Regions from separate parts of the Homo sapiens genome. Here regions 1 and 2 are each linked to region 3. The links come from fine-mapping of genetic effects on gene expression. A gene starts in region 3. Each other region holds a variant in brackets. All regions are shown on one strand. Distances are between the middles of the regions.

What was found. PIP is the estimated chance that this variant, and not a neighbour inherited with it, causes the effect.
Region 1: its variant is fine-mapped to the expression of MEGF9 in whole blood (TOPMed, PIP above 0.99).
Region 2: its variant is fine-mapped to the expression of MEGF9 in hippocampus (GTEx, PIP above 0.99).

What each region holds. Positions count from the first base shown.
Region 1 is chr9:120,733,104-120,741,288 of GRCh38, forward strand. No RefSeq gene overlaps it. Among named protein-coding and RNA genes, the nearest start is that of MEGF9, 23 kb to the left of the region's middle. The variant T/C (reference allele first, on the strand shown) is at 3,580.
Region 2 is chr9:120,176,385-120,184,569 of GRCh38, forward strand. No RefSeq gene overlaps it. Among named protein-coding and RNA genes, the nearest start is that of MIR147A, 65 kb to the right of the region's middle. The variant G/A (reference allele first, on the strand shown) is at 4,029.
Region 3 is chr9:120,709,837-120,718,021 of GRCh38, forward strand. It overlaps MEGF9 (multiple EGF like domains 9), which reads right to left and starts at 4,634. Exons shown (of 6, transcript NM_001080497.3): 1 at 3,922-4,634. The coding sequence starts at 4,522. RefSeq lists a silencer at 4,322-5,171.

The DNA of each region.
Region 1 (8,185 bases), 23 kb after region 3:
TAGTTGTGTAAATTAAGAAATCTGCCATCCAGGTGGGGAGGGGGTACCTGTTGCATCAGCAGGTTGATGGCGGGGCCCTGCCTGGTCGGTGTGGTTCTCCCTCTCCCAGGCCATGTCACCTTGTTCAAGTAGAACATTTATTCCTGCCCACCACAGGCATTTGACTCTCTGGAATTCATGGGAGGTTCTAGAGTGCGTCCGGCTCTGTGTCAACTACCACTGTGCAATTCCTGCAAAGGCAGTTGAGGCGGGGGTGGAGTAGCCCTGAATAAACTGACAGCCAGAGGACTGGGATATCAGCTGAGAACGTTCCCATGGAAAAGAAAAGTCCAGCCCCTTCCAGCAAATGCTGCCTGGCTCTGCAAAGAGTGCCTTGTCATCTCATTGGCATTGCTTCTGTATTTCTTTCCTATTTCAGACCAGAAGTGAGTGCATGGAGGATCTCTGTGAGCTGGTTTTCTCTATCTTCAGGATAATCCAACCTTTAGTAACAAAAGCAGAAAAATCTATTCCTATCCTTTGGCTCCCAAGTCCACATCTAAGTGATTCGTCCTAAGGATGTATTTCCAAAATTGTTTTTAAATCTTGTTTCAGGCCAGGAGCGGTAGCTCACGCCTGTAATCCCTGCACTTTGGGAGGCTGAGGTGGGTAGATCACCTGAGGTCAGGAGTTTGAGACCAGCCTGGCCAACATGGCAAAACCCTGTCTCTGCTAAAAATACAAAATTTAGCCACGTGTGGTGGCGGACACCTGTAATCCCACCTACTCGGAAGGCTGAGGCAGGAAAATTGCTTGAACCCAGGAGGCAGAGGTTGTAGTGAGCCAAGATGATGCCATTGCACTCCAGCCTGGGCAACAGAGTGAGACTGTCTCAAAAAATAAGTAAATAAATAAATCTTTTTTTAAATAAAGGTTGCTAGTATTATGCATGATTACATAAAGTGGGGCCTACCCAGGTCCCAAATGACAGGTGGATGAGCAAACTTTGGCCCCCATTTGAAAGAATACTATGATAAGCTTAAAAATGACAAAATGAAATTCGTCAAAATATAGAAAAGTATATATGAAAGAATGTCCAGGGAAAATATTGGAAACCCAAACTGCACAAATCAATCAGTTTCTCCCTGCAGCCCTGTTGATGAAAACTGGAAGAGTTCAAGAAATAGTTATGTAAAATTTAAATAAAGTCCATGTTCTTTTTTGTGGGTATTTGTGTGCTTAAGTAATGTAAGTATCATAATCCCTAAGAAAATACTTTCTAACTTTTAAACATTGTTCACTATAAAATTATCATTCACTTTCTTCAAAAAATAATAAATTATTTTAATAATTGCTAATTGCTCTGTCTAGAGTTAGGTGGTTGGGATACAGAAGTAATTGCTTCCTGGCATTCAGGAAAGTACGGGTCTTGTTTTGACCAGGCCTCTGCCTTCCCAGGGTTACTCCAGGAATTGGGATCTAGAACAGCATATGTTTACACCCAAAGGTGGGAGATCACTTTCTCAGGCAGGACTGGTCCTGGACTAGGGAAAACTACTCATCTAGCCCAAATGACTTGTCCTTCCAAAGAAACTATTCTGCTCCCCCAACTAATAATATTAGCCATATCAAGATTCTTAGCTGCAAACAAGAAAAAATTTGCCATGGATAGTTGCATAACAATGATCATTATTATCATCACTTTTGGTGCAGTTGTTGTATGCAGGCACTGTGCTGGGCTCAATGGGAAGGGTTTTATGTGCATTATCTCTTTTTATCAACAACCTAGAAAAGAAGGCAATTACTTCCTGTTATGGATGAAGGAACTGAGGCTAAGAAAGGCTGAGAAACTTGCCCAGAGACCACAGATTTAGTAAGTGGTAGAGGAGATTTTCAAAGCTAGAGCTGACTGCCAAGCTTGAGGTCTTAACAAGCTTAGTTTCTGCAATGAAAATCCTGCTGGGCTTCAGTGAGAATCCAGCAAGCTGGTGATGCAGCCTCCATCCTTGGTGGGCCCCTACTAGCCTTAATATTTCAGGGCAGTTTCCAGGAGAGCTGGCTGGAGTCAGTGGTTGGCATCCACACGCAGCAGAGCCATGAAGCTGGCTTTCCCAGCAGCTCACATTAACTGGCAGTGGCAGCCAAGGCAGGTCAGAAGCAGAAATGCTCTCAGGGCCTCAGGAAACATCTGCAAGTCCTCAAGGAGACAAGACCTGCCCCCTTATCACCTCTTCGGGGGAGAGAGTGGGCCTATCCCATCTGCAGGGAAAGAATGAACACATTGCTTTTATTTTCCAAGGTGTGTTCCTGTAAATGAAACAATTCACTGCTATGCAACTTTTAGGATTGGCCACTTGAGAGCAGGCCTTGTACTGGACAATGGGGTGGCAGTCCTGAAATCAGAGCCACCACCTGCCTGCCAGGGCTTGTGGGGCAAGGGTGAAGATGGTGACAAGTGACAAGCAGTATTTGCAATTCAAAGTGAATGGTGCAAGGAAAAGGGGATGTGGTGTAAGGGGGAGAGTATGAACTTTGGAGTCAGAAAGTTCTGTTTCTTCATGTCCTGGTTGTGAGACTTTGGGCAAATTTCCTAACATCTCGAGGTTGTTTCCTCATCTGGAAGAAATGTAAATAGTTATACTTGTATTGCATAATTACCATGAACATTAAAAGGTACAAGTATATCAATACTTAAAATTGCCTAGCAGATAATGGGAGCTCAATAAATGATAACATTACTAGTGTTATTAAAAAGGCTCAGTTGGAGGATCTATAAATGGTGTTGTTGAAAAGAAAACAGAAGGGACATATTAGCTGGGTTTTGATGGGGAAGTAGGAGTTTGTTGACTAGCTGGTAGGCAGGAAGGGTTTTCTAGTTAGCAACTTAGCAAGGACAGCTTTGTGAAGGAGCATGGAACATCCAGGCAACATGAGTGGACCAGTTAGGAGCTACTGAAATATTCCCATCAAAATACAGGGGCGTACCCCTGGGGCAAGATGACTCTCTGACGTCCACTTACTACTATTCTCAAATAAAGGACCATGAACAACCTCTCCGTGTAAATTCATAAACCAGCATTCTTGTTAGCTACGCTTCCTGAAATGGAGCAGCCTCCAGGCCCATGGCCTGACAATCCACAGGGAACAAACAAAGCTGAGAATCAGATTCCAAGAGCCCACGCTCTTCCTTCTCTGGAGTTAGACAGGCTTGAGTTTTCATTCCTGTCCTTGCTGTGTAAACTTGGCAAGTCACTCATCTCTCTTATCTTTCAGTTTTGCCATCTGAAAAATGGGAATAATTATACATTACACAGAAATTGTTATACATTATCACAGTACCTGGTGCATGGCAGGTGCTATCTATTCTTTAGAGAAAGGAGCTGCTTTCTTGCCTGAACTTATGGCAGAGTGAAGGCAAGACTGACATATTCTGGAAGAAGCCCCACAATCTCGACCATGAAATATCAAAAAAAGACTTTCACAAAAATGGCATAGGATAGATGTTATTCTGTACTTTGCTTTTTTCAATGAATAATACAACATGTGAATACATTTAGATCTTTCTCTCTTTTTTTTTTTTTGGAGACGGAGTTTTGCTCT[T/C]GTCACCCAGGCTGGAGCCCAATGGCACAATCTCAGCTCACTGCAACTTTCGCCTCCCAGGTTCAAGCGGTTCTTCAGCCTCAGCCTCCGGAGTAGCTGGGATTACCGGCACCTGCCACCATGCCCAGCTAATTTTTGTATTTTTAGTAGAGACGGGGTTTCCCCATGTTGGCCGGGCTGGTCTCGAACTACTGACCTCAGGTGATCTGCCTGCCTTGGCCTCCCAAAGTGCTGGGATTACAGGCGTGAGCTACTGTGCCCAACCCTTCTCTTTTTTAAAAATTGAGAATTTTACAGTATTATTACAGTATTAAAGCTCACCCTTTTAAAGTGTACAAGTCAGTGGTTTTTAGCATATTCATGAGGTCTTTCTTGCAATCATCACTATTACCTAATTCAGGACAATTTCATCATCCCAAAAAGAAACCCTGTATCTGTTAGTAATCATGCCCCATTGCCCCCTTCCCCTGCCCCCAAGGACTGCTTATCTTATTTTCCATCTCTATGGATTTGCCTATTCTACACATTTCATACAAATGGAATCATATTATATGTGGCCTTCTGTGTCTAATTTATTTTATGTAGCGTAATGTTTTCAAGATTCATCCATGTTGTAGTATGTACCTCATTCCTTTTTATGGCTGAGTAATATTCCACTGTATGGATATAATACCATATTTTATTTATCTATTAGCTGATGAGCATCTAAATTGCTTCCATTTTTGGCTATTATAAAGTAATCCTAATTTCTTTAAGTAGTTGCCTTGTATTCCATTAATTAGAGGTAGCATAGTTTAGTTAAGCACTTCTTACTGAAGGATAGTTCTGGTCTTCTTCATTGTTTGCTAAGCAAAGAAAGATATTGTTACCACAACATCCTTCTAGTCTAAGAGATAGTCAAAACTTACCCCATTTCCTGAGGGAATTATCCAACAGAAGCAAAAAGTTGTATTGCAAAATATACTAATTGCAGCAATTTTTGTAGTAACACAAAATTGGGAACTACTTAAAGAGTCCACAACAAGGAGCTCTTTAAGTAAATTCTATTGTTCAATTAAATAATGTACAATTACTAAAATGATAACTATGAAGGCAATATAGCAACAAGTGAATTGCAAATGGTGATCTTAAGTGGAGGAAAAACCATGACAAAATGCAAAATGGCATCCCTTGCCCACACTGGTTCTCGCGATAGTAAGAAGTAGGGCTGGGAAGCACATCCATGCCCTCTGGCCTTGAAATTCCTGTCTCTGCCATGTCACAAGGAGGAACAGAATCCAGGCTTCCTCACTAAGGAGCAGGCTGGGGATCACTGCCACCCTACAACTACTGTGGGTTCTAGGAGAGGGCCCGCTCAGGAGAAAGGAAGGCTCCCCTCCCACGTGACGAGGGGAAGCTGAAGTCACTGTTGCCTTCCCTAGATTTTGAAGGTCCTGACTCCCTAGGTCCCCAGGGAGTGGGTCATAGCTAGGCTGTATAATGGTGACGAGAATTGTGGACCCAAGTCATCCTGGTGGCTGTGGAACCAGTTGTTCATGAAGATAGTGGGTGAACTGTTGTGATGAGTACCTTCCAAACTTCCTGTGTGTGGTGCTGGGGTCTCTTGCCAACGTCCAATACCTAGGACAAATGCTGACTTCTCAGAGTGCCACCTGGCACTGTACTTTCCAGAGTAGTCATTGCAACTACATTCAACAGCAGTAACTGTGAATCCATTCAATTGAACCAATAATGTGAAACTGTTATTTATTTATTTATTTATAAGATGGAGTCTCACTCTATTGCCCAGGCTGCAGTGCAGCGGTGCCATATTGGCTCATCGAAACCCGGGTTTTGAGCAATTCTCCTGCCTCAGCCTCCCAAGTAATTGGGATTACAGGTGTCTGCCACAACGCTCAACTAATTTTTGTATCTTTAGTAGAGACGGGGTTTCACATGTTGGCCAGGCTGGTCTCCAACTCCTGACCTCAAGTGATCCACCTGCCTCGGCCTCCCAAAGTGCTAGGATAAAGATGAAACCCACCACGCCCAGCCTGAAACTGTTTTTTAAAAGTATCCTTCCTGCCTGTAATCCCAGTACTTTGAGAGGCCAAGGGGGTGGATCACATGAGGCCAGGAGTTCGAGACCAGCTTGGCCAACATGGTGAAACCCTGTCTCCACTAATACAAAATTAGCTGGGCGTAGTGGCGTGCACCTGTAGTCCCAGCTACTCAGGAGGCTGAGGCAGGAGAATCACTTGGACCTGGGAGGCGGAGGTTGCAGTGAGCCATGATCACGCTACTGCACTCCAGCCTAGGCAACAGAGTGAGACCCTGTCTTAAAAAATAGAATAAAAATGGCCAGGCGCGGTGGCTCATGCCTGTAATCCCAGCACTTTGGGAGGCCGAGGCGGGCGGATCACGAGGTCAGGAGATCGAGACCATCCTGGCTAACATGGTGAAACCCCATCTCTACTCAAAATACGAAAAAAGAAAAAAAAAATTAGCCGGCCGTGGTGGCGGGCGCCTGTTGTCCCAGCTGCTCGGCAGGCTGAGGCAGGAGAACGGCGTGAACACAGGAGGCGGAGGTTGCAGTGAGCTGAGATCGCACCACTGCACTCCAGCCTGGGCGACAGAGTGAGACTCCGTCTCAAAAAAAAAAAGAATAAAAATAAAAAAATAAAAGTATGCTTCTTATTGTCATGATCATGTAAACCACAATCATTGCCATTAAAAGTACACAATGTAGCAAAACCAGTGATAACCTGTAGCCTTCAAAGTATTATTAATAAGAGAAATTTATCCTCAATGGAGCATGTTGGTTGGCAGCTTATTTTTTTGGATACTTATAGTTGTGATGTTTACGTTGTGATTTTGTATTTTGTATCGACCATAAATTATATTTTTTTATTTCTAAACCTTGTAAACAAAAAATATACTAACACAGAATTTTGTTAAAGTTTATATGAAGGAATATAAAAAAAAAACATTTTCTAGTATTCAGGAAAGTATATAGTAGCTTCCCAGTCCTCTGCTACCAGCTTCCAATCAGCTCCACAAACTGTGAAACTGTCCCTAAAATGTCCCCAGTCTTAGGGAGAAGTTTGAGATTATTAGGGTCACAGCTACACTGCTGTAACAAAGAGGCCCCAAAATATCGTGGGTGCAAAAACATCAAAATTAATTTTTCTCTTACAAAACAAAACAACCAGGCTGGATTGGTCAAGTGATGCCGCCATAAACAGATACAGTTTCAGCCAGGAGCGGTGGCACATGCCTGTAATCCCAGCACTTTGGGAGGCCGAGGCAGGTGGATCACCTGAGGTCAGGAGTTCAAGGCCAGCCTGGCCAATATGGCGAAACCCCGTCTCTACTAAAAATACAAAAATTAGCAGGGCGTGGTGGCGGACACCTGTAATCCCAGCTACTCGGGAGGCTGAGGCAGGGAGAATTGCTTGAACCCAGGAGGCGGAGGTTGCAGTGAGTCAAGATGATGCCACTGGGCTACAGAGCAAGACTCTGTCAAAAAAACAAAAAACAAAAAACAGGTAGTTTCCCTGTTGGTCTCCATCCCCTAAGGTGTCATTATTTGCTTAATCAAGGCTGGGTTGCTAACTCTGGGAAAGGAGGAAGAACCAACATTCCAGATAAGGAGCTTAAATCTGGAGATGACCCAGAAAATGTTCACATCACTTCCTTTCAATATTTGGTTAGTCCACACTTAACCACATGGTCACATCCAGCTGCACAGGAGTCTAGGAAATGTAGCCTGTAGCTGGGCAACTGTGCCCAGGAAGAGGGGAAGAATTTGGAGGAATAAGTAGCCATCTGCTACAGAGATTCTTTTTAATTTAAAAAATTTACAACATAAAAGAATTATATTACAATCCCATCATACAACTACTGACATTTTTCTATTGTTCTTTCCACATTTGAAACATGTGTGTTCCATGTATTTTTATAAAGTTGTAAAAATAGTATGTATGCAATTTTACATTCTACCAGAAATAAAACAGTATAATGAAAATAACATTAGATTCAAACAATGATATGCTATTTTTTTACCTATGACATTGGCAAGGTCTTTTAAAAAACCACAATAACCAGTGTTGGAGAGATCATGGGGAAATAGCCACTCAAACGTTACTCATGAGAGTGTACACATGTGTAACTTCACTTGGAGGGCAATTTGGTGATACATTTAAAAGTTTTGGCCAGGTTTGGTGGTGTACACCTGTATCCCCAGCTACACGGGGAGGCTAAAGCGGGAGGATGGTTTGAGCCCAGGAGTTTGAGGCTGCAGTGAGCTACGATCGCACGACTGCACTCCAGCCTGGGTAATGGAGGGAGACACTGTCTCAAAAAAAAAAAAAAAAAATTTACAATTTAACCTAAGGGGAAAAATGTAGAGATGTGGGTACAGATTTGTATAAAGGCTGGTTGTCGAAGCCTTACTTATGCTAAAAAATAGAACTAACCTAAATATCCAATGGGGATTGTTTAAATGAATTATGATTCAACCTTCCACAGAGATTAGAATCATGCTCTTGAAGAACACTGATGATGTAAAAAGTCTGCTAACATATTAAGTGAGAAAGCACATTACAAAATGGAATATATGTTCTGA
Region 2 (8,185 bases), 530 kb before region 3:
GGAGAGATGATGCAAAATGGGCTCTAAACATCACACCACCATTTCTCTCTTAGGCTCATCCACCAACGCAGATGGTCCTTCCTTCCATCATGGTTCAAGGAAAGATCTGTCCAAGTCTCCCCAACAGCCAAAGGAAAGGTTTATTGCTCTGGGGACAAAAGGTGAACCCAGCTTAAAGAAATATCCTGACCTTGGGAGTCATAAATAAAAGCCCTGAGCCAGGGCTCAAAAGTATCTGAGGGAGGGTTTCAGCCAATGAGGACTTCATCCTTAAGTGCACACCTGAACTAAAGAATAGTTTGGGGCTCTGAGCTGACCTGGCCCTGGGGCCCCTCCTTTCCCAGTGCTGCAGCAAATGGATGAAAAATTGTATCATTAAACTCTTTGATGTTCTCCTGTCTAATTGAACCTGTGAAATTTCCTAAGGTTATCCAGCCTCCAAAAATTCAATTTTCCATGTAACGCATGGTGACGTGTCAATAAATCATGCTGTAAAATAAATGCGCAGATTCTTTTGTGCAGGAGCGAGTGAGGAATAAACCTTTCGTAATTGATAAATAATGTCATTGGAATCAATAGCTGGCAGAGGAGTTGGAGGAGTAAGCCTGAATCCTGTATGAGTGCTCCGGGGTGATCAATGCCTTTGAAACAGCCAGGAGCTCGGGAGCCAAGTGTATAAATTACTGCCTTAATATTACAGCAGGGCCCAAAAATTAAAAGATGGGTACATTGCTAAGTACTGTTGAGATGGGAAGATGAGTCTGGGATGTGGGTAGTGTGAGTTCTTTCATGGGCACCTTTTGGAGGGCTTGTGGGGTCCCTGCAGAATGGAGATGAGAGCAGATTGTGCAATCTGGGACTTCGGATGGAGACAGCATGAATCCAGCTCTGGTCATTCCTGCCAACATCCTATGTTGGCAGCAAAGGAAGTGAGCTGCCACAGACACTACTTAGGAAAATGGCCCAGCTGCCCTCAGAGGCCTCAATACCAGGAGCCAGTGCTGACATACAAAGTGAAGGACAAGCCTGGGAATCATTGGATCAGGTTCCAAGTGGCAGCCACAGACCCTGCTAGACCAAGAGGAAGGGTCACTATGCAGTGGTCAGGAGCACTAGCTTGAGTCAGACTGCTCAGCTCTGCCACCAGCTGTGTGACTCTAAGCAAGTTACTTAACCGCCTTGTGCCCCATTCTTCTCCTCTGTAAAACAGAAGGCAATAATGCCAACTTCACTGACTTTTTTAAAATTATTATTTCTTCTTAAAAAAAAAGGGATACATGTGGAGAACGTGCAGGTTTGTTACATAGGTATATGGATACCATAGTAGTTTGCTGTGCCTATTGACCCATCCTCTAAGTTCCCTCCCCTCACCCTCCACCCCACAACAGGCCCTGGTGTGTATTGTTCCCTTCTCTGTGTCCATGTGTTGTCAATGTTCAACTCCCACTTTTGAGTGAGAACATGCAGTGTTTGGTTTTCTGTTCCTGTGTTAGTTTGCTGACAATGATGGCTTCCAGCTTCATCCATGTTGCTGCAAAGAACATTATCTCATTCCTTTTTATGGCTGCATAGTATTCCATGGTATATATGTACCACATTTTCTTTATCCAATCTATCATTGATGGGCATTCGGGTTGGTTCCATATCTTTGCTATTGTAAATAGTGCTGCAATAAATATACGTGTACATGTGTCTTTAAAATAGAATGATTTATATTCCTTTGGGTATATACCCAGTAATGGGATCCCTGGGTCAAATGGTATTTCTGGTTCTAGATCCTTGAGGAATCACCATACTGTCTTCCACAATGGTTGAACTAATTTACATTCCCACCAACAGTGTAAAAGTGTTCCTAGTTCTCTACAGCCTCGCCATCATCTATTGTTTCCTGACTTTTTAATAATCACCATTCTGACTGGCATGAGATAGTATCTCACTGTGGTTTTGATTTGCATTTCTCTAATGATCAGTGATGTTTAGCTTTTTCTTCATGTTTGTTGGCTGTGTAAATGTCTTATTATGAGAAGTGTCTGTTTATATCCTTTGCTCACTTTTTAATGGGGTTGTTTTTTTCTTGTAAATATGTTTAAGTTCCTTGTAAATTCCAGATATTAGACAGACAGGTAGATTGCAAAAAATTTTATCCCATTCTGTAGGTTGCCCGTTCATTCTGATGATAGTTTCTTTTGCTGTGCAGGAGCTCTTTAGTTTAATTAGATCCCATGTGTCAATTTTGGTTTTGTTGCAATTGCTTTTGGCATTTTTGTCATGAAGTCTTTGCCCATGCCCATGTCATGAATGGTATCACTTAGGTTTTCTTCTAGGGTTTTATGGTTTGGGGTTTTACCTTTAATCTTCAATCCATCTTGAGTTAATTTTTGTATAAGGTGTAAGGAAGGGATCCAGTTTCAGTTTTCTGCATATGGCTAGCCAGTTTTCCCAGCACCATTTACTGAATAGGAGATTCTTTCCCCATTGCTTGTTTTTGTCAGGTTTGTCGATGATCAGATGGTTGTAGATGTGTGGTGTTATTTCTGAGGTCTCTGTTCTGCTCCTTTGGTCTATATGTCTGTTTTGGTACCAGTACTAAATATGGAAAGGAAAAACTGGTACCAGCCACTGCAAAAACACACCAAAATATAAAGACCAATGACACAGTGAAGAAACTGCACCAACTAGTATGCAGAATAACCAAGTAGCATCATGATGACAGGATCAAATTGATACACAACAATACTAACCTTAAATGTAAATGGGCTAAATGCCCCAATTAAAAGACACAGACTGGCAAATTGAATACCCATTGGTGTGCTGTATTCAGGAGACACATCTTACGTGCAAAGACACACACAGGCTCAAAATAAAGGGATGGAAGAAAATTTACTGAGCAAATGGAAAGAAGGAAAAAAAAATCAGGGGTTGCAATCCTAGTCTCTGACAAACAGACTTTAAACCAACAAAGACCCAATAAGACAAAGAAGGGCATTACATAATGGTAAAGGGAACAATTCAACAAGAAGAGCTAACTATTCTAAATATATGTGCACCCAATACAGGAGCACCCAGATTAATAAAACAAGTTTCTAAAGGCCTACAAAGAGACTTAGACTCCCACACAATAATAGTGGGAGACTTTAATACCCCACTGTCAGTATTAGACAGATTAACAAGACAGAAAATTAAAAAGAATATTCAGGACTTGAACTCAGCTCTGGATCAAGTGGACCTAGTAGACATCTACAGAACTCTGTTCCCCAAATCAACTGAATATACATTCTTTTCAGTGCCACATGGCACTTATTCTAAAATCGACCACATAATTTGAAGCAAAACACTCCTCAGCAAAAGAACTGAAATCATAACAAACAGTCTCTCAGACCACAGAGCAATCAAATTAGAACTCAGGATTAAGAAACTCACTCAAAACCACACAATGTCATGGAAATTGAACATCTTGCTCCTGAATGACTCCTGGGTAAATAATGAAATTAAGGCAGAAATCAAGAAGTTCTTTGAAACCAATGAGAACAAAGAGACAATGTACCAGAATCTCTGGGACATAGCTAAAGCAGTGTTAAGAGGGAAATTTATAACAATAAATGTCCACAGCACAAAGCTAGAAAGATCTCAAAGCGACATCCTGACATCACAATTAAAAGAGCTAGAGAGGCAAGAGCAAACTAATCCAAAAGTTAGCAGAAGACAACAAATAACTAAGATCAGATAAGAACTGAAGGAGATACAGACACGAAAAACCCTCCGAAAAATCAACAAATCTAAGAGCTGGTTTTTTGAAAAATTAACAAAATAGATAGACCGCTAGCTAGACTAATAAAGAAGAAGAGAGAGAAGAATCAAATAGACACAATAAATAATGATAAAGTGATATCATCACTGACCCCACAGAAATACAAACTACCATTAGAGAGTACTGTAAATACCTCTACATAAATAAACTAGAAAATCTAGAAGAAATGGATAAATTCTTGGATGCATACACTCTACTAAGACTAAACCAGGAAGAAGTC[G/A]AATCCCTGAATAGACCAATAACAAGCTCCGAAATGAGGTAGTAATTAATAGCCTACCAACAAAAAAAAGCCCAGGACCAGATGGATTCACAGCTGAATTCTACCAGTATTACAAAGAGGAGCTGGTACCATTCCTTCTGAAACTATTCCAAACAATTGAAGAGGAAGGACTCCTCCCTAACTCATTTTATGAAGCCAGAATCATCTTGATACCTAAACTGGGAAGAGACACAACAAAAAAAGAAAACTTCAGGCCAATATCCCTGATGAACATTGATGCAAAAATCCTCAATAAAATACTGACAAACTGAATCCAGCAGCACATCAAAAAACTTATCCACCACAATCAAGTCAGCTTCATCCCTGGGATGCAAGGCTGGTTCAACATACACAAATCAATAAATGTAATCCATCACATAAACAGAACCAAAGACACAAACCCCATGATTATCTCGATAGATACAGATTTGTTAAAATTCAACATCCCTTAATGTTATAAAACTCTCAATAAACTAGGTATTGATGGAACATATCTCAAAATAATAAGAGCTATTTATGACAAGCCCACAGCCAATATCATATTGAATGGGCAAAAGCTGGAAGCATTCTCTTTGGAAACTGGTACAAGACAAGATGCCCTCTCTCACCACTCCTATTCAACATAGTATTGGAAGTTCTGGCCAAGGCAATCAGGCAAGAGAAAGGAATAAAGGGTATTCAGGTAGGAAGAGAGGAAGACAAGTTGTCTCTGTTTGCAGATGACATGATTTTATATTTAGAAAACTCCATCATCTCAGCCCAAAAACTCCTTGAACTGATAAGCAGCCTCAGCAAAGTCACAGGATACAAAATCAATGTGCAAAAATCACAAGCATTCCTTTACACAAACAATAGACAAGCAGAGAGCCAAATCATGAATGAACTCTCATTCACAATCACTACAAAGAGAATAAAATACCTAGGAATACAGCTGACAAGGGATGTGAAGGACCTCTTCAAGGAGAACTACAAACCACAGCTCAAGGAAATAAGAGAGGACAGAAAACAAATGGAAAATCATTCCATCCTCATGGATAGGAAGAATTAATATCACAAAAATAGCCATACTGCCCAAAGTAATTTATAGATTCAATGCTATCCCCATCAAGCTACCATTGACACTCTTCACAGACTTAGAAGAAACTATTTTAAATTTCATATGGAATCAAAGAAGACCCCCCTATAGCCTAGACAATCCTAAGCAAAAAGAACAAAGCTGGAGGCATCACACTACCTGACTTCAAACTATGCTACAAGGCTACAGTAACCAAAATTTACTGACTCTTAAGGACAAAATGGAATCATGTTTCTAAGTATCTCAACTCAGTGTCCATTCCTACCAAACATTAAACAAGTTGAATCTGTAGTGCTTTATGGATTGTATATTGTTTTGTCACTATCTGGAGCACTTTCCTTCTATTTAATTCTCACAGCAACCCCATGAGGTAGTTACTACGATTATCCCCATCTTATGGATGAGAAAATTGAGGCTCAGAGAAGGTAAATGCCTTGCCCAAATCACATCACTCTAATTTATGGAACCAAGATTTGCATACAGGTAGTACAAGTCCAGAGCTGTTTCTTAAACATGACACTATATTGTAGCACCATCCTTTCCCTGGAGCTTCCCCAGCCCTGTGGAAGGCTGTGCTTGGTGGGCACTCCCCATGATGGTCTCCAGGGGCATCCCACCTGGCTCACAGGCAGCCTGAGAGGGAGGAGAGAGTGGAGAACCAGAGTCAGGCTGTGGTGGTTTCTGATTCCAGCTCCAACACAATGTGCCTCTGAGGCCATCACTCCTGCTGGCTGAGCCACGGTAGTTGTCTCATCAGTAACATCAGAGTGATAATTTTTACCCCTCAAGGTCATCTCCAAAGCATGATGTGTGCTCTTGGGCAAGAAGGACCTATGTGAGTCTGTTTCCTCATCTCTAAAATGTGAATCATGACTCCAGCCTCCCAGGACTGACCTGAGAATTAGATGAGATGGCCAATAAAAATCACCTTCCTGGCTGGTGTCTGCAGCTGCTTCTCATGAATCCCCCTTTCCTTCCAAAGGAATTCAGAAGGAATCCTAACACAGTGTGCTATACAACACCAGGGGTAGGAGGTTATTCAGACCTATTGTTTCATAACAAGGTATGGTAGATAGAAGATATTTGTATCAGTTTGTTCTCACACTGTTCTCACACTTTCTCTTAATGAAGAAATACCTGAGATTGGGTGCTTTATAAAGAAAAGAGGTTTAATTGTCTCACAGTTCCACATAGCTGTGGAGACCTCAGGAAACTTACAATCATGGCGGAAGGCACCACTCCACAGGGTGGCAGGAGAGAGAATGAGCGTCCGGTGAAGGGGAAAAAGCCCTTTATAAAACCAACAGGTCTCGTGAGAACTCACTCACTATTGTGAGAACAGCATGGGAGTAACCTCCCCCATGATTCCATTACCTCCCACTGGTTCCCTCCCATAACACATGGGGACTAGTAGAACCACAGTTCAAGATGAGATTTGGGTGGGAACACAACCAAACCATATCAATATCCAAAGCAAAAAATTGAGAAAATTTACGCATTCAGCTTCAAGTCGCTTGCTGCAAAAGACCTTCCTTGGGCCCATACTGTGAGCTCCTCTGGCTCCTGTATCTTCCATATTATAGCATCTACTCCCATGTCATATAACTAAGCATCAAACTTTCTTGATAGAGGATCAGCTTTGTAGGGACAGATATCTAGTGTCTTATGTTGGTTGGGCTCCCCTCAGAAGAAAACCTTAAGACTAGAATTTCAGTGCATGTAGTTGATGTAGGAGGCAATCCCAGGAAGTACCCATGGGAGGATGGGGAAATAATACAGAGACAGAAAGACAGGAAGGGTGCACTGATGGGCAGGTTTCCACTGTGGGCCACCAGAGCTCAAAGCCCTGGGGACTTCGGGAGGTAGAGTCGGGCATGCACCAGAGTGGCCCCACATGATGCATGAGGCGGCTGAAATATATATTCACCATCTCCCACCTGCCACTGGTTGATTCCCAGCATTGCCAGCCCATGACACATAATAGCCAGAGAAAGCCCTCAGGTAGAACTTCACAGGTGCTGGCAGTAGAAAGCAGTTGCGGATGGGAGTAGTGACAGCCACAGTGGGTAGAGTATCTGCTACACCTTACTGATCTCTAAAGCCCTGATGCCCACCCAGTTCCTGGCCCCGTGCTTGCTTTATGAAATGGAATGAACAAATGAATGAATGAGGAGTAGTCATCTGGGTCAGAGCTCTTGCACATTGGTGAAGGGCAGATTCTGAAACTCCTACTTCAAAAGCTTAGAAGCAGCAGGCTGTCCCAGCAACTCGAGAGTGTGCTTTCCTCTGCCTGGACTGGACCTCCCCTGGTGTAGCAACCTGTATGTGAGGAGCCAGGCAGGTTCAGGGACTCACACACAGAGCCAGTGGGAAGCCGCTGAATAAGAACTCTTCTTTCTTCCCTGGTGGGCTATTATGATAGAGTCTGGTAAGCTCCAGAGGGTGGAGGAGGGGGGCTTCTTTGTCTTTATAGCCCACCTTCTGCAATTTAACACAAAGCCTTGAATATCACAGGCTTCCTTGCTCTTTGTAACAAAATGGACTTATGTGTTGTTCACTCATTTGGCAAACATCTGCTTAGGACTCCATGTGCCAAGCTGCATTAGGTGGTATGGGCATAAGAATGAATAAAAATAAAGTCCTTGACCTTGAAGTCAAGTGGAGTGTCAGATACATCAAATAGTAATTAGAACACAGCATCATATGTACTATAATAGAATTATGTAAAGGAAGATTATAGGACCCCAAGGGAACAACGGATCATCAAATTGCTTTGGGGTTGGTAGAGAAATTTTCACACATTCATTTATTTATTTCTCTTTTTCACCAGTCTCTGAACAAAAGGAGTATCCTCCCTGTTTCATGACCCTCTTTGTCCTATGGGGGTTTGTCACAAAAGCACCTATTTTTTAGTCTTCAGACTTATGCAAAACACCATCTGTGCCCTGGCTCTGGGTCAGTGACTAGAACCGCATCCTCCCACAATCACCTTTGGCAACTGGTCAACTTCCACTCACTCTTCAAATCTCAGTTCAGGTATCAC
Region 3 (8,185 bases):
TCAGAAGTTCGAGACCAGCCTGGCCAACATGGTGAAACCCCATCTCTACTAAAAATACAAAAATTAGCCAGGCATGGTGGTGCGCACCTGTAATCCCAGCTACTTGGGAAGCTGAGGCAAGAGAATCGCTTGAACCCGGAGGTGGAGGTTGCAGTGAGCCAATCTAGCCTGGGCAAAAAGAGCGAAACTCCGTCTCAAAAAAAAAAAAAAAAAAAATCAAACATTTGTCATTACCTTAGTGTCTTACTGATTATTATTACCTCTGGTATCACAGCATCTCTCTTCACCCTGCTTAAAATGTCCTACCCAGGGCCAGGCACGGTGGCTTACACCTGTAATTACAGTACTTTGGGAGGCCAAGGTGGACAGATCACCTGAGGTCGGGAATCCGAGACCAGCCTGACCAACATGGAGAAACACTGTCTTTACTAAAAACACAAAATTAGCTGGGCATGGTGGCACATGCCTGTAATCCCAGCTACTTGGAAGACTGAGGAGAATCGCTTGAACCCGGGAGGTGGAGGTTGTGGTGAGCCGAGATAGCACCATTGCACTCCAGCCTGGGCAACAAGAGCGAAACTCCGTCTTAAAAAAAAAAAAAAAAAAAAAAGTCCTACCCAGCCAACCAATCAGTGAATGTTTTGCTGGGTTTGTGGGAGAAAAAGTGCCTGCTTGCTGGGCAATTAGTTTCAGTTTGCAGATCAGTGTCCTTGTAAACAAAAAAGGGCCCTAACTGAGGGGCAGGCAAGAGCTCTCAGCTAGATCTCCATGAAAGAAATTATTATTAATTCAAAAAGCATCTATAAGACCTATTCAATCAAATAATATATTATCAGTGGCATTAGTTCTTACAGGAACGTTGAAATTAAAAAATACTGTACAACCATCTTCTCAAATGCCAGGGAATCCAACTTTGCAAGCCAAACCAGTTGTCTCAAATTCAATTATAAGTTTTCCTTCTGCCAAAGAGATATGTTTTCTGTTTAAAGTAGACTGGAGCCCATGCTCCATACTTGATCAGATCACTGTAAAGTCAATTTAGCTGCTGAGAACTAGATATTGGCAATCTAGAGTGAATTCACAGAGAAGTACAAACTACCTAATATTTAAAACACAGGAAAGTTATCGAAATTGGACATCCTTCCAAGATTTTTTCACCCAAAGACCATCACAGACGTAAGTATAATGTTAGTTCATGAAAATTATTAAAAGCCTTGAACAACAGTTCAGATGACAAATATTACTCAATCCAGCTTTACTGCAGTGTATACTGAATTGGATTCTAAGCAACTCCAGTGAAAGTATTAGAGAATATAGTAAATAGATGATGGATTTAACAAAAATACTCTGTGCTGCTTCCTCTCTGCTTTTTAAAGTGAAGCCTAGAAGCAATCTAAGTGTCCATAAATAAGGGCTTGGTTAAATAAATTATGATACATTCTTACCCTGGAAAATGCAACTATTAAAAAGAATAAAGTAGACCCTAGATACCGATATTTTTTTTAAAAGTCCATGATACATAGTTAAGTGAATACCACAAGTTGCAAAACATGTATAGAATTATTCCATTTTGATTTTTTAAAATCTATTTTTAAATACCCTGTGTGTATGTTCATATATGCCCAGCAAAAACAGCTGAAAAAAGATCTGACAAATTGCTAACAGTAGTAACCTCTAGGGACTGACTGAAACTAGGAGGCAGTGAAGGAGTGACTTTCCCTTTTTCCTTTGTGGACTTCTGGTTGTTTATATTTTTTTGCCAGTAGGGGTTACCTTTGGGGTTGAAAAATAACAACACAAAAATAGTAAAAGTAAAATAACATGAATTACACAGATTTATTTATCAGATACTAACCAAAGTAAGTGATCTTTCTACTTAAATGCTACTGTATGCTTAAAACTCCAGAGAATCTAATTCATTCTTTTTCTATTATATTTTACTAAAACAAATAAAAATCACCCCAAGTCCCTACTAGTTTTCTCAAATGCTTTCTATACATACATACATACACACACACACACACACACACACACACCCACAGGCCTGGTCATAAGCATAGCTAACACACACGGTGCTTATTCTACACTAGGAACTGTTGTAAGCACAGTAAGTGTTAACTTATTTAATCTTCCCAGCAGGCCTGGTGAAGTGAATCATGCCTGAAATCCTAGAACTTTGGGAGGCCGAGGCAGGAGGACTGCTTGAGTTCAGGAACTCAAGACTAGCCTGGGCAATATAGTGAGCCCTCATCTCTACAAAAAATACAAAAAATTAGCTGGGTGTGGTGACCCACGCCTGTAGTCTCAGCTGCTCAGGAAGCTGAGGTGGGAGGATCGCTTGAGCCTGGGAGGCAGAGGTTGCAGTGAGCCAAGATTGTGCCACTGCACTTCAGCCTGGGCAACAGAGCCAGACCCTGTCTCAAAAAACAAAAACAAAAACAAAAAAAGTCTTCACAGCAACCTTATGAGTTAAGTACTACTATAATATTATCTTCATTTCACAATCAAAGAAACTGAGTCCAAAGAGCTTCAGTGAGCCGCCTAAGCTTACACAGCTAACAAGGGGAAGAGCTAGGATTCAAACCTAAGAATAAACTCCAGAGTCCATACTCTCAACCACTATGCTTCCTGTCTCTCAGTAATATGTCAATCTCTCTATATGAAAGCCAAAAGGGGTTACAGGTAAAACCCAGCTAGCTAATGCATTCCTTGAAGCTGGAAGAGATGCACACTTGGCTTTTTATGGGTGAATAATCCTACTTATGTCATTGCCAAGCTCCAACCCAAGGATCAAGACTGTATTAAGGTTCATAACCATGTGGGAAAATTCTCTACACACTCAATTATAGTCCAAAGTCCATACCTGACTCCACAGTAAATCACTAAGCCTAAGATTTAGGTCAGAGACCCAGCTAGACAAAGGATTTGGACAAACCTCCACCCCAACTCAAAGCAAGACAATTCAGAAACTTTTGTCCAAACGTTCTGACAAAGTAGGCTTTTGTTTTGTTTTGTTTTAGTCCTAGGCCCACTTAAGATTTAAACGGGGAAAGAATACGAGTTGTCTTTAACTTTGCTTGAAGACTTCAGCAAGAAAAGCCTTTTCTACGTGGGCTCAAACAGAAATTGGCATATATCAGCATCAGCAAAGTTGAACATCCTGGCTTAAGGAGACAAAAATAGGCATCCTTGCTTAAATGGTGTATTTGGCCAAACATGTTGACCTTATAATTGTGGAAGAAAAAAATGGTGCGAGGAAGAGATTTAACCTAATTTGTAAATGTGCTCAGCCTAGATACACACCTGTCCCAAATGACCTACTGAATCCACTTATTTGCAGGGACAACATGGATTACAATGCCTTTTTTGTTTTTATTTTTTGCCCTCAAGTGGTCCATACTACTGTTTGTAAACAAAATCCTCTCACTACCTCTCTTCCACCTGTCATACACACACATCTGATATTTACATAAACAAGAAGAAATGAACAGGGAAACTGGAGCTTTGGGAGGAATTCCTTACCCTCAGCTTTTGACCCAGTGGTTGAAGGAGGTACTATGCGGGCTTTCAAACTTCCCCAAATAACCCAGGCAGAGAGGCTGGGTGCGCGAACCCAACCCAAAAGTTTGCGCCCATTCTGGTCTCTGAAAAAGGCCAGAAAGCCCTGTTGGGAAGAAGATGAGATGCCTTCCACCCAGCAGCCACCCCCTCCCGAGGGAGCACAGCCCACGGGGGACAAAAGACTTTCCAGATTGATCGGGGGCGGGAGGGAGACTAGCTGGACCTGGGATCCCCCCTCGGGAGCCGGAACCTGGGGTGTCTTTGGGGTAACAAACGATAAATTATAGGCAAGAGCCCAACCCTAGATTGCCGGGGCTGAGGTGAGGACGGGTCCTGCCCGAGAGGGAGCGCCGGACTCACCTGGAGGAGGCGAAGAGGGGGCCTCGGTGGCAGGTGGGGTGGGGAGGACGCTGCTGTTGCTGCTGCTGGGGAGATCGGGGGTCGGGGTCCGGGGAGTCGTGGGCGCCGGTACGGTGGTCGCTACAGGGGTGGTCGGCGCCGGGCCAGTGGTCGTCGAAAGGGTGGTCGGCGCGGGTCTGGTCGGCGCCTGAGAGGTGGTCGAAGTGCGTTCCGCCGCCGGAGGGGTGGTCGGCGAGGGGCCGAGCGGCGCCTGAAAGGTGGTGGAAGAGGGTCCAGCAGTCGCCCAAAGAGGGGTGGTCTCCGGGGACTGGGCTGGAGAAGTCGCAGCCAGGGGTCGGTGGACGGTGGCGCGCGGGGGCCCGGTCCTCGGGGCCTGGGCCGTGGGAGCCGTCGCCCTAGGGAAGGGGTGGCTGGGCTCGCCCCGCAACCCGGGGCCCGGCGACGCGTCCACCTGCCCCGCGGCCCCGCCGCCACCGGTGACATTCCCCGCCGAGGCGGCTGAGGCGACGGCGGCGGCGGCGGCGGCGGCGGCGCAGCACAACAGGGCGAGGCCGCCCAGGCTCGGCAGGCTCCTCATGGCGCGCTCGGCTCCGCCATTCATTCATTCAGCCAGTCGGTTGGTCAGTCATCTTCTCCTCGTTGCAATCCGACCAAGGAAGCCTCCGCAACCGCCGCCGCCACCGCCACCGGGCGCACCATCGCCACCTCCCTCTGACAGGCGGCCGGCCCCGCGGGCGGGCCCCAGCGCGGAGGGAGCGACCGGACCGAGCGCGGACCGCCCGCCCTCCTCGATTGGCAGCCGCGCCTAACCAATGGGAAGCCACAGTCGCCCACGTGATCCGCCCGCTTCCCGGCCTCTTTGTAGCCCCGTAGGCCAATCAGAGGACGTCCAGGAGAGGGGGCGGTCCGTGAGGCGGGAGAAGGGTGGTGCGAGCCCAGCTCTAGCCCGCCGGGCTCGCGGCGGCCCCGGCTTTGTCTGCCCAAAGAGTGGGGCGCGGGCCTCGGGCACCGGGCGCCGCGGAGCAGACAAAGGATGCGCCCCGCGCGGCAGACGCCGGGCCTAGTCATCTGCTCCACCGGGCTGCGAGCACGAGCGGGGGGTGGAATCAGCACTCGGGAGCATCCCCGCCCTCCTGAACAATGGGGCGCCAGCGCCGCACCCCAGCTCGGGCGGGGACCGCGCGGGAACCCCGCGATGGGAGAGGGCAGCGGCAGCGACGATGTAGAGCTTGGCATGCCCTCTGCTGCTCCAGAGAGCCTGGTCGCAGCCTTGCGAGGTCTCTGCCGCCATTCCCATTTCAGAGATGGGGAAGCTGAGGCCCTTGCTGAGGGCCTCCCTGAACCGAGACCCACGCCCTCACCAGAAACCTGCTGTGGGCCAGGTGTTGTGCCAGACTGGACAAGGGGGCGGGACCGGGCGGTGGAGACCCCTGAGGGCAGAAGGTGCAAGCTTCCTGCGTGGAGGAGACAGGCTCGCAAGCACACTTACCTAAACCCCGGGAAGAATAGGATCAGACAGGGTTGAACCTCAACTTGATGTCTTTTGCTGAATGGTTTTGTGGCCTGAGCGCGGTTTTTTCACCACTAAAATGGAGATGATAGGACACCCCTCACCCCCCACCCCCCTCACAGAGCTGTTGTGAGAATTAAGTCATGGACGTAAAGGGCTTAGCCCAGAGCCTGGCCCACTGTTGTAACCCTCATTAATGCTAACTATTCTCAGCATTTGCGCCAGGGCAAGCCCAGGATTAGAAAGCAGCCCCAGGCCACAGCCCTTCAGTGCCCCCAGAGCCTCCGGCTGGTTGCAGGGGTTGGGGTGGGGCTAATAGCCGAGCTTGACCCTGGATGACACTAAACCCTGAATCAAGCTGGAATTCGGGCACGCAGCCTCGCATCATCCGCCCAGGATCCAGAGCTAGGTCAGGCGCTGCTGCTTCGGCTCAGCAGCTTCCAGAGGAAGCCAGGCAGGGCGGGTTTGTCATCTGATGGGGCTTAATTCAAGCCCCACTGCTAACCCAATCCCGGCCTCCCCTACGTGATGTTTGGCTTTGTGCATGGTTTCCCATTAGTCATTGGTCTTCAACCAGACCAGCAGGATGAGATTTATGTGTGAACCCGTGTATGTTAATTAAAGCATGCATTTATTTTCCTGCATGAGTAGTGGGTGGGGGAGGCTGTGTATGAATGCATAAACATGTTTGTGAGTCTGTGTGTATGAGTGTTGTATGTATCTGTGTGAGTTTATGAGTATGGGAGCTAGTATCTATTTTCATATATTGTGTCTTAATAATCTGTGCATGTGTACTGGTGTGTGTTTTTGTGTATTTTCTGTGTTTTTGCATTTGTGGTTATCTATGGGTGTGTCTTGATAGGTCTATGTATATAAGACAGCGGGAATGAGGGAGAATGTGAGTGTTCTGTCTTCAGGACCAATATTTAGCAAGCACTAACCAAGGTTCTATTTTTACTTTGCTTTGGGAGGGTGGACAGGTCATGCCAGTCCCCCATATTCCCTTGCTGACCCTCCCTGGCCCTTCAAACCCCAACCAAAATGTCACATTCTCTAAAAGACATTCCTGGATTTGAGTGGGAATTAATCTCTCCCTTCTCATTTCCCCACCACCCCTTGTTTATGCATTGATTACAGCCCTGATCTACCAATCTACCTCTCCGTTGCCTCTTCCTAAAAGGATTAAGGATGGCTTTCAGAAATATATACAACAGGATAAATTGTATTGCCCACATGGCTTTATTACTTCTCATAGGCATGCATCAGCCTTAATACTAGAACTTGTTATTTATGTGTCTGTCTCTTACGTCAGATGTTCTCCCTGTTCTGAGAACCTAGCAGGGGCAACACATGTAAGTGCCAACCCATGCTGGTTAAATTGAATTAATTGAGGTCTTGTCGTGCTTGTGGGAGGAGCTTGTGTCTTTAGAGTCAGACAGACTTGGGTCATGACTGCCAACTCTGTGACCTTGGAGGAAACCTTTCACCTCTCTGAGCCTCAGTTTTCCCCCCCACTTTTTTTTTTTTGAGACAGTGTTTCACCCTTGTCGCCCAGGCTGGAGTGCAGTGGGGTGATCTTGGCTCACTGCAACCTCCGCCTCCCAGGTTCAATCGATTCTCCTGCCTCAGCCTCCCGAGTAGCCGGGATTACAGGCACTTGCCACCAGGCCCAGTTAATTCTTGTATTTTTAGTACAGACGGGGTTTCACCATGTTGGCCAGGCTGGTCTCGAACTCCTGAGCTCAAGTTATCCTCCGGCCTAGACCTCCCAAAGTGCTGGGATTACAGACATGAGCCGCCGCGCCAGGCCACTTTTCTCATCTATTAAATGGGGCCAATAAATAGTCTCTCATTTGTTGACTAGGATTGAGGAGAATGTTTTTACAGAGCCTAGCACACAGACGGTGCTCAAGCTGTGTAGGTTCATATTTTTGTTATACCATTGCTAACTTTGAGACTTGTTGGCTGAAGGACCAGAGCAGAAACCCCTGCCCCATAAGTTCCCCATCAGGTGACATGGCCTGACACTTGCCCTACCTGATATTTCCAAATGATATCTGAAAAATGCTGGGTTGGCCCTGAGCTTTGCTGTATCAGAGGTTCTCTGGCAAGGGGAAAAAAGCTGATGCAGCTTCTTGGCCAGGAGAGCCACAGAGCAAATGACTAGGAGACCTTGTCGAGTGATTCAGGTCAGCTCTCTGCCTTAGGCAAGGATCATCCATGCCGGGGCTTTTAAGATGGGATATTAGCCTGTCATATGTATAGAAAATATTGAATTTTTTTGAAAGATACCAGTAATTTAAATGTGTTAATGTCCATTCAACATTTAATTTTTAAATTTCCTTAATCTTAAATCTTCCTTAATCTCTAAACTACAAGATGACTTTCTTAGGAATTATGTTTGTGTTTAAAAATTGGAAATACCTTACATATCTGTCATCAAAGAAAGGTATTATTATACCTGTTAAATTTAATCCTAGAAAGTCATTGTAAGTGTAGCTATGAAGACAGTATAGCAAATATTAATAGTAAATAATTGAGCTCATAGTCTATGCTAGACACTATACCAAGAGCTACATATGAATTGTTTTGTTTAATCCTAAAAACCCCAGGAAATAGGTACTATTATGTCTTAGTCCATTTGGGCTGCTGCAACAAAGTACTGTAGATTGTGGCTTGTAGACAACAAAAAATATATCTCTCCCAGCTCTGGTGCCTGGGAAGTCCAAGATCAAGGCACCAGCAGATTCAGTG